3 linked regions of the Homo sapiens genome follow. The protein of the gene in region 2 binds, or shares a complex with, the protein of the main gene of each other region. Each region holds a gene or a part of one and is shown on either strand. Other genes may lie near its edges.

Evidence for each region.
Region 1: MED12 (region 2) and MED16 share a complex: the UniProt entries of both Homo sapiens proteins name them as parts of the mediator complex.
Region 3: MED12 (region 2) and MED13L share a complex: the UniProt entries of both Homo sapiens proteins name them as parts of the mediator complex.

What each region holds. Positions count from the first base shown.
Region 1 is NC_000019.10:883,159-886,807, reverse strand, and holds part of MED16 (mediator of RNA polymerase II transcription subunit 16), read left to right. Parts: intron 1-606; coding exon 607-1,038; intron 1,039-1,799; coding exon 1,800-1,905; intron 1,906-3,649. UniProt on the Homo sapiens protein: Component of the Mediator complex, a coactivator involved in the regulated transcription of nearly all RNA polymerase II-dependent genes.
Region 2 is NC_000023.11:71,131,984-71,135,632, forward strand, and holds part of MED12 (mediator of RNA polymerase II transcription subunit 12), read left to right. Parts: intron 1-89; coding exon 90-223; intron 224-393; coding exon 394-555; intron 556-861; coding exon 862-973; intron 974-1,139; coding exon 1,140-1,229; intron 1,230-2,373; coding exon 2,374-2,483; intron 2,484-2,729; coding exon 2,730-2,865; intron 2,866-3,108; coding exon 3,109-3,270; intron 3,271-3,649. UniProt on the Homo sapiens protein: Component of the Mediator complex, a coactivator involved in the regulated transcription of nearly all RNA polymerase II-dependent genes.
Region 3 is NC_000012.12:115,963,100-115,966,748, forward strand, and holds part of MED13L (mediator of RNA polymerase II transcription subunit 13-like), read right to left. Parts: intron 3,145-3,649; coding exon 2,983-3,144; intron 421-2,982; coding exon 308-420; intron 1-307. UniProt on the Homo sapiens protein: Component of the Mediator complex, a coactivator involved in the regulated transcription of nearly all RNA polymerase II-dependent genes.

The sequences.
Region 1 (3,649 bases), on a different chromosome or scaffold from region 2:
CACCGTGCGCAGCCAAGACCCCATCTTTTAAAAGACTCACGTTGAAAGAAGGGTGGATGTTTCCGTATGTCAATAATGACTTGACAAATTTGATTTGAAATCAAATAGTGCCCGCAGCAGCCGCTGGTGCTTACACAGCACTTCCTGAGTGCTATAGCTCAGGTCTGCACAGTGCGGCCCAGGGCCTGACGGCCCCCGCCTGGGTTTGTGAGTGTGGCTCATTGGCACCAGCTGCCTGTGTGCCGCCACGGCAGAGCCAGAGCCAAGTCGTTGCAACAGGGACCACCTGGCTCCCAGAACCGAGCATGCTGCTGTCTGTCCCTTTACAGAAAGGGGAGGTGACTCCCGTTGCGCACACGTTCACCCGTTTAATCCTCCCCACTGTCCTCTAAAGCAAAGGTGCCGTTCCTTCCACCTTACAGATGAGGAGACGGAGGGTCAGAGGGGATCACATCCCACACGGCTCAGGTGGCCGAGTCAGGATCTGAACCCAGGTGCACACACTCCTGGCTTCTGCGTGGTTCTTCTGTGCGCGTGTTTCTGGGGGTCATGGGGCAGCCCCCATGAGCCTGAGCGGCCCCTCCTCCCTCCCTCCCTTCTCCACAGTCGGGCGCCTCCAGCTTCGGGGAGAAGTTCTCCCGAGTCAAGTTCTCACCGTCGCTCACGCTGTTCGGCGGCAAGCCCATGGAGGGCTGGATCGCGGTGACGGTCAGCGGCCTGGTCACCGTGTCCCTGCTGAAGCCCAGCGGGCAGGTGCTGACGTCCACCGAGAGCCTGTGCCGGCTGCGCGGCCGCGTGGCCCTGGCCGACATCGCCTTCACCGGCGGCGGCAACATCGTGGTGGCCACGGCGGACGGCAGCAGCGCGTCGCCCGTGCAGTTCTACAAGGTGTGCGTGAGCGTGGTGAGCGAGAAGTGCCGTATCGACACGGAGATCCTGCCCTCCCTGTTCATGCGCTGCACCACCGACCTCAACCGCAAGGACAAGTTTCCCGCCATCACCCACCTCAAGTTCCTGGCCCGGGACATGTCGGAGCAGGTGAACGGGCGCAGGCCATCACGTGGGCTGGCAGGCTTGGAATGAAGCACTGCTTCTCAGGGTCCTGGGGGTGGAGACCCGCGCGGGCCTCCACGGGCTAAACCGTGGTGTGGGCAGGGCCGGTCCCTCCCGGGGGCTCCAGGGGAGAACCCATTTTCTGCCTTTCCCAGCATCTGGAGGCGCCCAATCCCTCGGTTCGGGGCGCCTTCCTCCCGCTTCGTGGCCACAGCGCAGCCTCTTCCTGTCTCTGAATCTCAACCTCCCACATTCTCTCCTGAGGACCCTGTGAGGACACTGGGGCCCCCGGACCCCCCCCAACGTGCTCTCCCGTCTCAGTGTCCCGAACCGAATCCCACCCGCAGGTCCCTTCTCTGTGAGAGGCGGCCCAGCCACCGGTCCTAGGGCTGAGGATGGGATGTTCTGGGGGCCACTGTTGAGCCGACCACACCAGGTCGCCTGGATTCCTGTTGTAATTAGGAATCAGTAACGCCCCAAACTCCTTGAAGCCCCTGACTTGGTTCCCTGTGTCCCTTTGCTGTCCCTGTGGGAGGGCACCATCCGGGGACATTTGCGTTCCTGTGAGTGGATGTTGGGCTCTGGGGACAGGCCTGGGCTGGAATCCAGGAGGGCCCGAGGGGCAGGCGTGGCTGAAGAGACAGGCCCAGCAGTGCGTGGCCCCAGGGTCCCGCAGCTCAGGCTCCGGTGGTGGCGTGGCCACCACAGCAGTGCCGGGTCAGCCCTCACCCCCACCTCCCCCGCAGGTGCTTTTGTGCGCGTCCAGCCAGACCAGCAGCATCGTGGAGTGCTGGTCCCTGCGCAAGGAGGGACTCCCCGTGAACAACATCTTCCAGCAGATCTCCCCCGTGGGTGAGTCTCCCGCCGGCTGCGGAGGCCCTGGGCCTGCCCTCGGGGGCGGTTGGTTTTTATTTTGGAGGCAGGTCTTGCTGTGTCACCCAGGGTGGTCCTGAACCCCGGCCCTAAGCGATCGTCTCGCCTCGATCTCCAGTAGTGCTAGGATCTCGGGTGTGACCGCGCGCCTGCCAGCATTCTGAGTGTGTTAGGCGTATAGACTCCTCCATCCTTCCACGCCCGCTGCGGCGGCTGCCACCATTCTGTGCGAGGCCGAGGCTGAGAGGTGTCGTTGCTCAGCCAGCGGGGACACCGTGAGGGGCTGCAGGCGTGTGGGCGGCTGTGGAGCGTGGGTCTGTGGGTGGGGCCGTCGGGCAGCAGGGGACAGGCCAGACCGGGCAGGGGCGGTGCACGGAATCCTCCGGAACCTGGTTCAGGGAGAGGAAGCCAAGGCTCAGCGGGTCAGCTGAGGCTGCTGAGAACACGCCCCCCACCCCACCCCACCTCTCCAGCAGCCTCTTCTGGGGCCCCCATTCCCATCTCTATCCGCCCGATGGGCCCCCCGCACCCACGGAGCCAAGCCCGTCATCCCCACCTCCGGCACAAAATCCTGGGGCTGGAGCGAAGCAGGGACGCCCGCCTGCTATGACCGGGGACCAGAACAGCCGCTTGGTTTTCAGAGCCTCGGAGGCTGCGGGCCTGGTTTTTAGGCTGGCCTCCGCTCTGGAGAAGGGAGATGTTTTCCCGGTAGATGAGAGCACAGGCATTTGCCGATTAGCGCTAATGGACCCTGGAGTGGCCAGACGTGGGGGCACGTGGGGCAGGTGGGGCAGGCGCTCCTCAGAAGCCACTAATGAGCACGTGTCAAGAGGCCCCGATGGCTCCCGGGGCCTGCAGGTGGTTATGTCAACTGCCCATTGTGGCCGCAGAGGCAGTAAAGGTGAAGAGGGCCACTGCCATTCCTTCCCCCAGGGCTTGTAGTGAGTCACCAGGCAGGTGAAGAGGGCTGCTGCCATTCCTTCTCCCAGGGCTCGTTCCTTCGCCCGGTCCCCAGGGCCTTGTTGGGCCTCATTCCTTCCCCTGGGCCTCGTGGTGAGTCACCAGGCAGTTTGGGCTGCGCTGGCTCCTGCAGCAGCACCTGGCGCCACCCCGTGTGGCTGCACAGACCTGCACCTTCACTGCCCGGTGCCCCCGCTGGGCACGTCTGTGTCTACCATCTGCCCACAGCCAAGCCACTGGGCAGTCCTGGGCTCCGACACTCCTCCTCGTCTCCTGCAGCCGTCCTCACCTGCTGGCCCAGCTGTTACCCGCCCGAGAGCCACGTCTCACACACATGCCACAGCCTTTCTCAGGTCTCACATCCCTGGCAGCTGGGGGTCACTGGGACAGTCCCCACCGCACCCATCTCTCCCCCATCTCTCCCCCTACCGCCCCACGTGCCCACCATGCCAGGCTTTGGTCCCCGCCATGCCCAGCTCTTCACGCACCGCCCCACGTGCCCACCGTGCCAGGCTTCGGTCCCCGCCATGCCCAGCTCTTCACCCACCACCCCACGTGCCCACCGTGCCAGGCTTCGGTCCCCGCCATGCCCAGCTCTTCACCCACCGCCCCACGTGCCCACCATGCCAGGCTTCGGTCCCCGCCATGCCCAGCTCTTCACGCACCGCCCCACGTGCCCACCATGCCAGGCTTCGGTTCCTACCATGCCCAGCTCTTCACCCACTGCCCCACATCCCCACTTAGCAGCTTAGCTTCTCCCTGC
Region 2 (3,649 bases):
TCTCCGTCATCTCCGATCTCTCCTACCATCTGCTTTCCTTCACCCTTAGCTACCTATTTTAGCACTTCTGTGCCTTTCATCCTCCCCAGGAGATGAACTCCCTCTTGGAGAACATCGCCAAGGCCACAATCGAGGTTTTCCAACAGTCAGCAGAGACAGGGTCATCTTCTGGAAGTACTGCAAGCAACATGCCCAGCAGCAGCAAGACCAAGCCTGTGCTCAGGTCGGATAGAAACATGTTAGGACCCATCCCCTTAGGAGTTTATCTGCTGGTAGCGTGAGTGATATCAGATGCGTGGAGATGCCAGCATGTCCATCAGGGAAAGGAGAGGATAGATTGTTCCAGCCTTGCCTGGCTCCCCTGTGACCCTGTGTCCTCTGTCTGTTCTCCAGCTCTCTAGAGCGCTCTGGTGTATGGCTGGTGGCCCCCCTCATTGCTAAACTGCCCACCTCAGTCCAGGGACATGTGTTAAAGGCTGCTGGGGAAGAATTGGAGAAGGGTCAGCACCTGGGTTCCTCTTCACGCAAAGAACGTGATCGACAAAAGCAGAAGAGGTAAAGGGGCTTAGGGAGTGGACCAAGATTGAGGGGTAGAAAGGAGAAGAGGCAGGCCCGGGGAAGAATAAAATGGGCCAAGGAGAAGCATCATAGGAAAGTGGAAAATCAGAGGATAAGAGTGGGCATGGCTGAGCAAGAGGCTAGATCTTAAGAGAGTAGTCTGGAGAATGAGGTTGGAAGTTGACTCCCAACCCACAGTCTCCCTTTTCTCCTCTCCTCTTCTCTCCTCTTCTCTTCTCTTCTCTTCTCTTCTCTTCTCTTCTCTTCTCTTCTCTTCTCTTCTCTTCTTTCTCTTGTCTCTAGCATGTCCCTATTGAGCCAGCAGCCCTTCTTATCGCTGGTGCTAACATGTCTGAAAGGGCAGGATGAACAACGCGAGGGACTCCTTACCTCCCTCTACAGCCAGGTGCACCAGGTACAGATCTCTGGGCCATGGAGGTGGGCAGGAGGTCAGGGAAGGATGCACCTAAGGGGTTACTCTGTACTTGGAAACTTCAGTACTTTCTGATAAACATATTGGCTGCTGTGGGATGGAAACACGAAGATCCCTGAGCTGCATATTTTATTTGTTTCTATTCTAGATTGTGAATAATTGGCGAGATGACCAGTACTTAGATGATTGCAAACCAAAGCAGCTTATGCATGAGGCACTCAAACTGCGGCTCAACCTGGTGAGAAGGCCAGCTGGGGAGAAGAAGGAAGAGGGTAGGGCTGGAAATGCGGAGTGCAAAAGCCTCAGGTTGGGGAGAATGGGGGTAAGGATAGAGGCCCCAGGTTATTCTGAGTCTTGAAGGGTTTTTTTTTTTTTTGGAGTCAGAGTCTCACTCTGTCACCCAAGCTGGAGTGCAGTGGCGCCATCTCAGCTCACTGCAACCTCCACCTCCTGGGTTCAAGTGATTCTCGTGCCTCAACCTCCTGAGTAGCTGGGATTACAGGTGTGTACCACCACACCTGGCTAATTTTTGTATTTTTCATAGAGATGGGGTTTGACCATGCTGGTCAGGCTGGTCTTGAACTCCTTACCTCAAATGATCCGTCTGTCTCGGCCTCCCAAAGTGCTGGGATTACAGGCATGAGCCACCGTGCCCAGCCTGAGTCTTGAAGTATTAACCTTGTTCTCTGAAAGTATGCAGGGACTGAAAGTGGTTAAGGGGGCTGGATCACTGTGGTCATGGTCCAATAGGTTATGTACCCTGGATCCTTGCAGGGCCTCTGCCTCAGTATCCTAGATTCTGACTGGGCCCTAGAAGCACTGGAAACCCACTGTGGAATGTTGAATGGAATCCTGGAAATCATTCTGTCCAATTCCCATCACTTTCTAAGTATGGAAACAGAGGCCTAGAGACGTCAAGAATTCCGTCATTGTCTTGAGATCATGTAGCAAATCATAGGCTCAACTCAAGCATGGCCGGGCGCGGTGGCTCACGCCTGTAATCCCAGCACTTTGGGAGGCCGAGGTGGGCGGATCACGAGGTCAGGAGATCGAGACCATCCTGGTTAACACGATGAAACCCCGTCTCTACTAAAAATACAAAAAAAATTAGCTGGGCGTGGTGGCAGGCGCCTGTAGTCCCAGCTACTCGGGAGGCTGAGGCAGGAGAATGGCGTGAACCCGGGAGGCGGAGTTTGCAGTAAGCCGAGGTCGCGCCACTGCACTCTAGCCTGGGTGACAGAGCGAGACTCCGTCTCAAAAAAAAAAAAAAAAAAAAACTCAAGCATGAACTCAGGCGTCCCAACTCAGATTGGAACTAAGCTTTCCTGAAACTCTGGCCTTTGTCCCTGAGCCATCTGACTGACTTGTTGTGGCCCTGGCAGGTGGGGGGCATGTTTGACACGGTGCAGCGCAGCACCCAGCAGACCACGGAGTGGGCCATGCTCCTCCTGGAGATCATCATCAGCGGCACTGTCGACATGCAGTCCAACAAGTAAAGCATCCCCACCCGCTCCCTGCAGTTTCATACCCAAGAAGCTCCCCCTACTCCCATGCCAGGTGCACCCACTGAGATTGGTGTGGCTGTTACTGTGGACTCCGTGGCCCTGGGCTCCCCATACAGTTTTGGTGCCCTTGGGATGACATATTAAGCACCTCTCCCTGCTTGTGTCCTCTGCTGAGGCCTTTTTCTATCTTCACCTCTTTCTTCTTTGGTTTTCTCTCTGGCTTCCTGTCTCAGTGAGCTCTTCACTACTGTGTTGGACATGCTGAGCGTGCTCATCAATGGGACATTGGCTGCAGACATGTCTAGCATCTCGCAAGGTAGCATGGAGGAAAACAAGCGTGCATACATGAACCTGGCGAAGAAGTTGCAGGTAAGCAGAGGAAGCGGGGGCAAGGTTTGCGGTTACTGGAATCTGCTGTCCAGCCTCAGGAACTTGCTTCTGGCTGGAGCCCTCTACCTTTCCTTCTCACGTCTGCCTTTTCTTTGTTACTCATGCCGTGAGCATTTACTGAGTGGGGGTCTTCTCTGTGCCAGGTTCTGTGCTGTCCCCTGAGACTTCCCATCCCTGTTTTCTGTATCTCTGAACTCTTGTCCCATCTTCCTGTGCCTGCAGAAGGAGTTGGGGGAGCGCCAGTCAGACAGTCTGGAAAAGGTTCGCCAGCTGCTGCCACTGCCCAAGCAGACCCGAGATGTCATCACGTGTGAGCCACAGGGCTCCCTTATCGATACCAAGGGCAACAAGATTGCTGGCTTCGATTCCATCTTCAAGAAGGAGGCATGTTCCATTGTCTGCCCGTGTCCCTTGCCTTTTTTCCCCTTTGGGCAAGAACTTTGCCTGCATCAGCTTTGTAGCTCCAACAGACTCATCAGATTCAGGAGCCCATCAGTCTCTGCCGGTGAACACCATCTCTGGGGTTTTGAGCAAATCACTTAACTTTCCTTACATTTCATCTCCATCTTTGAAGTCCCACCCTCTTTCCTTCACCCTGCCCTCACCTTTTAACATACCACCCATTTTTCAATACCCTACCCTCCTCTTTCCTCTGCTCCACCTGCCCCATGTCCTACCCCACCCATCTATCTGGCCGACAGCCTGTATCTCTTTTATTTCTGTGTTTCCCTACACCCACCCATCTCTGCACACTTTTATCTTT
Region 3 (3,649 bases), on a different chromosome or scaffold from region 2:
GACACTGTCTTCTAACTATCCACCCCCAAGATCTGACCTCTCTTCATCACCATGAAGTGCCTGCTCTGAACAGGAAGCAAAGGCAACTATAAATGCCTATCACTGCCTAACTGAATCCAATGTATTACACCGCCTGTCCCATGCAGCTATGAGGGACTGCAGCTCTCACTGACTCATCAGATACTGTATCACTGCACAAACGGCAGCTTCTATGAATACCACACTTAGATTAAAACACCTTGGAAAGACAACAGTAAAGGAATATTGTTTCAAATTGCACTGCTATGATGCCTAGGTTGGTATCTACCTTAAAACATCCGACGTGGTTTTGGAGTCAAGAGGGTGTGGAACCCGCTGAGAATTCCTGGCAGGCAGAAGTTCGTCTGTCTGTGCTACTGAAATGTGGTGATGCAGCGAAGCCTGGTGAAAAAACAAAGAGAGTTACCTCTCTGGTCTAGACAATCACAGTGCAGAAGTGAGGGAGGCCATGTCTGCCAGAAGCAGATGCTCCCAAAAGTCCGTAGAAGTCAGGGTTTCTGTGAGTCTACAAATTTTAACCTGCTCAGTAACCCCCAAGGTAATCCCAAATAACTTCTTATCCTAGAGTTGGAAAAAAACAAAAAAAAAGCAAACTTTTTGGGCTTTTTTTGTCTACTACATTTTGTTTCTTCAATGGAAATAGTCTAGCACACACAAAAATACTATAATATATAATAAGGTCCCATGAATTGATATCGCCAAGATGCAACAATTATCAATATTCACCACTTTTCTGTTTTCATTTTCTTTTTCTGAATTAAACACAAATATTACCATCTCTATAAAACATTAAAAAAAAATAGCTGGGCATGGTGGTGTGTGCCTGTAGTCCCAGCTACTCAGAAGGCTGAAGCTGGAAGATTGCTTGAGCCTGGGAGGATGAGGATGCAGTGAGCTGTGATTGCACCACTGTGCTCCAGCCTGGGCAACAGAGCAAGACTCTGTCTCCAAAAAAAAGAAACAAACAAACCAACCCCCAAAAAACCCTCCCCACAAAAAAACAAATATTGTATTATTTTGCTTGTAAAAAGTCAGTAGATGTCTCACATAAGGACCTTTAAACATAACAGTAATTATCACAGAAAAATTAACAATGATTCCTTAATATTATCACCCCATCTGTAGGATAATGAGGAAGATAATGCTCCATTATCTCAAAAATGTCTTTTTATAATTGGTTTACTAAAATCATGAGCCAACATGATCTGTACATGACAAATGATTAAAGGCATGAAATGTCTACTGTCCCACTTGAAGTCACATGATTCATCACTGGGTTCAGGTGATACCAGGACACTACATCCATCATAAAGTTCCTCATCAACTTTTCACCTAATGGTTTTGGTATTACTTTACATGTAAAGGAGAGGCAACATATAAATGCTTCTTTCTCTTTATTTTTTTATTTTTCAGACTGAGTTGATGCTCTAGCAACAAATGATGACTGATTTTTTGTTTGTTTTCCAACACAATTATGAACCAAGGATTTGTTTCATTCTATCACTGTCATCATTTTTTTTAATGATCACACTGTCCCATCCTATCCCTGGACAACAGAGCTGCCCCCTAAGATGGCTCCTGAGGCCCTGCTGGACCATAATAATCTTTGGTAACTTTCTTCCTTTTAGGTGTGACAAGATGCCTCAGGTTCATTGTGAATATTTCCTGCTGCATATCTGGAATCAGTCATCTCTTCAAAGAACCACAGTTCCTTTAAATGACAACGGTGTGCAGGAACCACATTCGTGGCAACAGAGGTGTTTATTGCTGCTAAGCTTTTTCAGCAGACAGAGCTAAAAAAATGTGTATACTTTTTTAGAGAGGAAAAATAAATCTATGCTCATATTGATAATTCTAATTCAAAATAAAGAACACATGCATTTTTATAAACCTTCTTTGATTTTATAATAGTATGTTAAAGTCATTAGGAAAAGAACATTGCTTCACTGTCTAATAAGTTTTTGGTTTAATTTCCATCGTTTCTTTCTGAAAATATACACAGCTATGTGTGTACGTGTATATGTGTGTGAATGTGCATATCTTATAGATTACTCCATGGTAATCTCTACTCCACAGAATGATTACATAGAAATGGTCTCCATTTTGTTGTAGATGATTAATATTTCACTGTCTGGATGCACCACAGTTGATTCAATCAGTCCCTCACTGATGACACTTAGGTTCTTTCTAGTCTTGGACATATGTCATTTTCTGTTTTGGCAAAGAACCTTTGGGCTATTCCTTAGAGGTGGGATTGCTGCCCTGAAAGGGAAGTGTGTAGGGCTATATCATTCAGCAATCCCACCAACACCAGGGCCTGCTCCCCACATCTGGCCAACACAGTATGCTGCCAAATCTTTGTATTTTTGCCAATCTGTGGGCAAGAGATGGATTTCATTCTAGGTATTGCTGTTTTTAACATAAACTGCAAGTAGGGGATCTTTTGTTTTGAACCCTTAAAATTGGGATTAAAAGGTTCCAAGAAATATAAAGGAAGGAGCAAGTGTAAATGTGCGATGTTTTTAGCTGACTCTTACTCTTCTCTAATGAAGAATGTGAAGAGTCCCTGGCAGGGGAAGAAGAGGATGGCTGGTTATTATACCTTCGACACAGGCTTAACTTTACTGATAGTGATGCAATATAGACTTGGAGAAAGACCATCACATTGAACCCCATGCATCCATCCTAGATTTACCCTCTGGGCCCCACTGTTTCCTCCTTGGGCTACAGTGATTCATTTCTTTGTGACATGGTTTTGGGTCCTCCTAAATTCTACTCTCCACCTACAACTGTAATTAAAATTTCCTCAGAGTATAAGTAGATACAAGAGAAAAAAGGAACAGAATAAGATTATGGTGACTAAAACTGAAATTTCTAACCAAAATTAAATTTAAGCGTAAATCACTCATTCCTTGCAAACTTCTAATATGACACCAAACCAACCTTTAAGAAGAGAGGGCACTGGTTTTGAGCCTGGGGACACGATGACCAAAACCACTGGGGAAGATTCTCAGCTTTGGCAGTTGATACAAAATACCCAAGGGCCAGGGGCTGCTGCTTTAGCTCCTCTGGTGCTTCTCTAGAAAGAAGACGCTCACCCTGGCTCTGAAAAACAAAAATCCCAAAAACATGATCAGCATTTATCTTAAAGCTTGAAAAATGAACTTTCATCAGTTCACTCTGCACACTGCAGTGAGTGATCCCCTTTGTGGCAGCATCTCACAGAAAACAACAGGTGACTGAGAAAGGTAAGCGGGGCCAGCATCGTCTTTGCTGCACACATAGAGAAGATACCAGCAAAACTGACAGCCTCAGTCAAGTAAGTACAGATTTATTTGCTTGGGTTTCTTTTCTAAGGGATGTAAGATCTATTTCATGGCATTATGATGTAACAAACTAAAATGGAAAGATTACAATCTCTGACAGCAGAAGGCTCTACCACACGCAGGTGCTCTTTCACCAGCAACCAGCCAAAGACACACAAGCGCACCAGCCTGACCAGGACAATGTGACACCAGTATGTGCACAGCACAAAAGTTCCTGAGCTGCCAGTAGTGCAAGATCTGCTCACAGAGAAGCCATGTTTTCATTTGCAGCATTCCCCTTAATA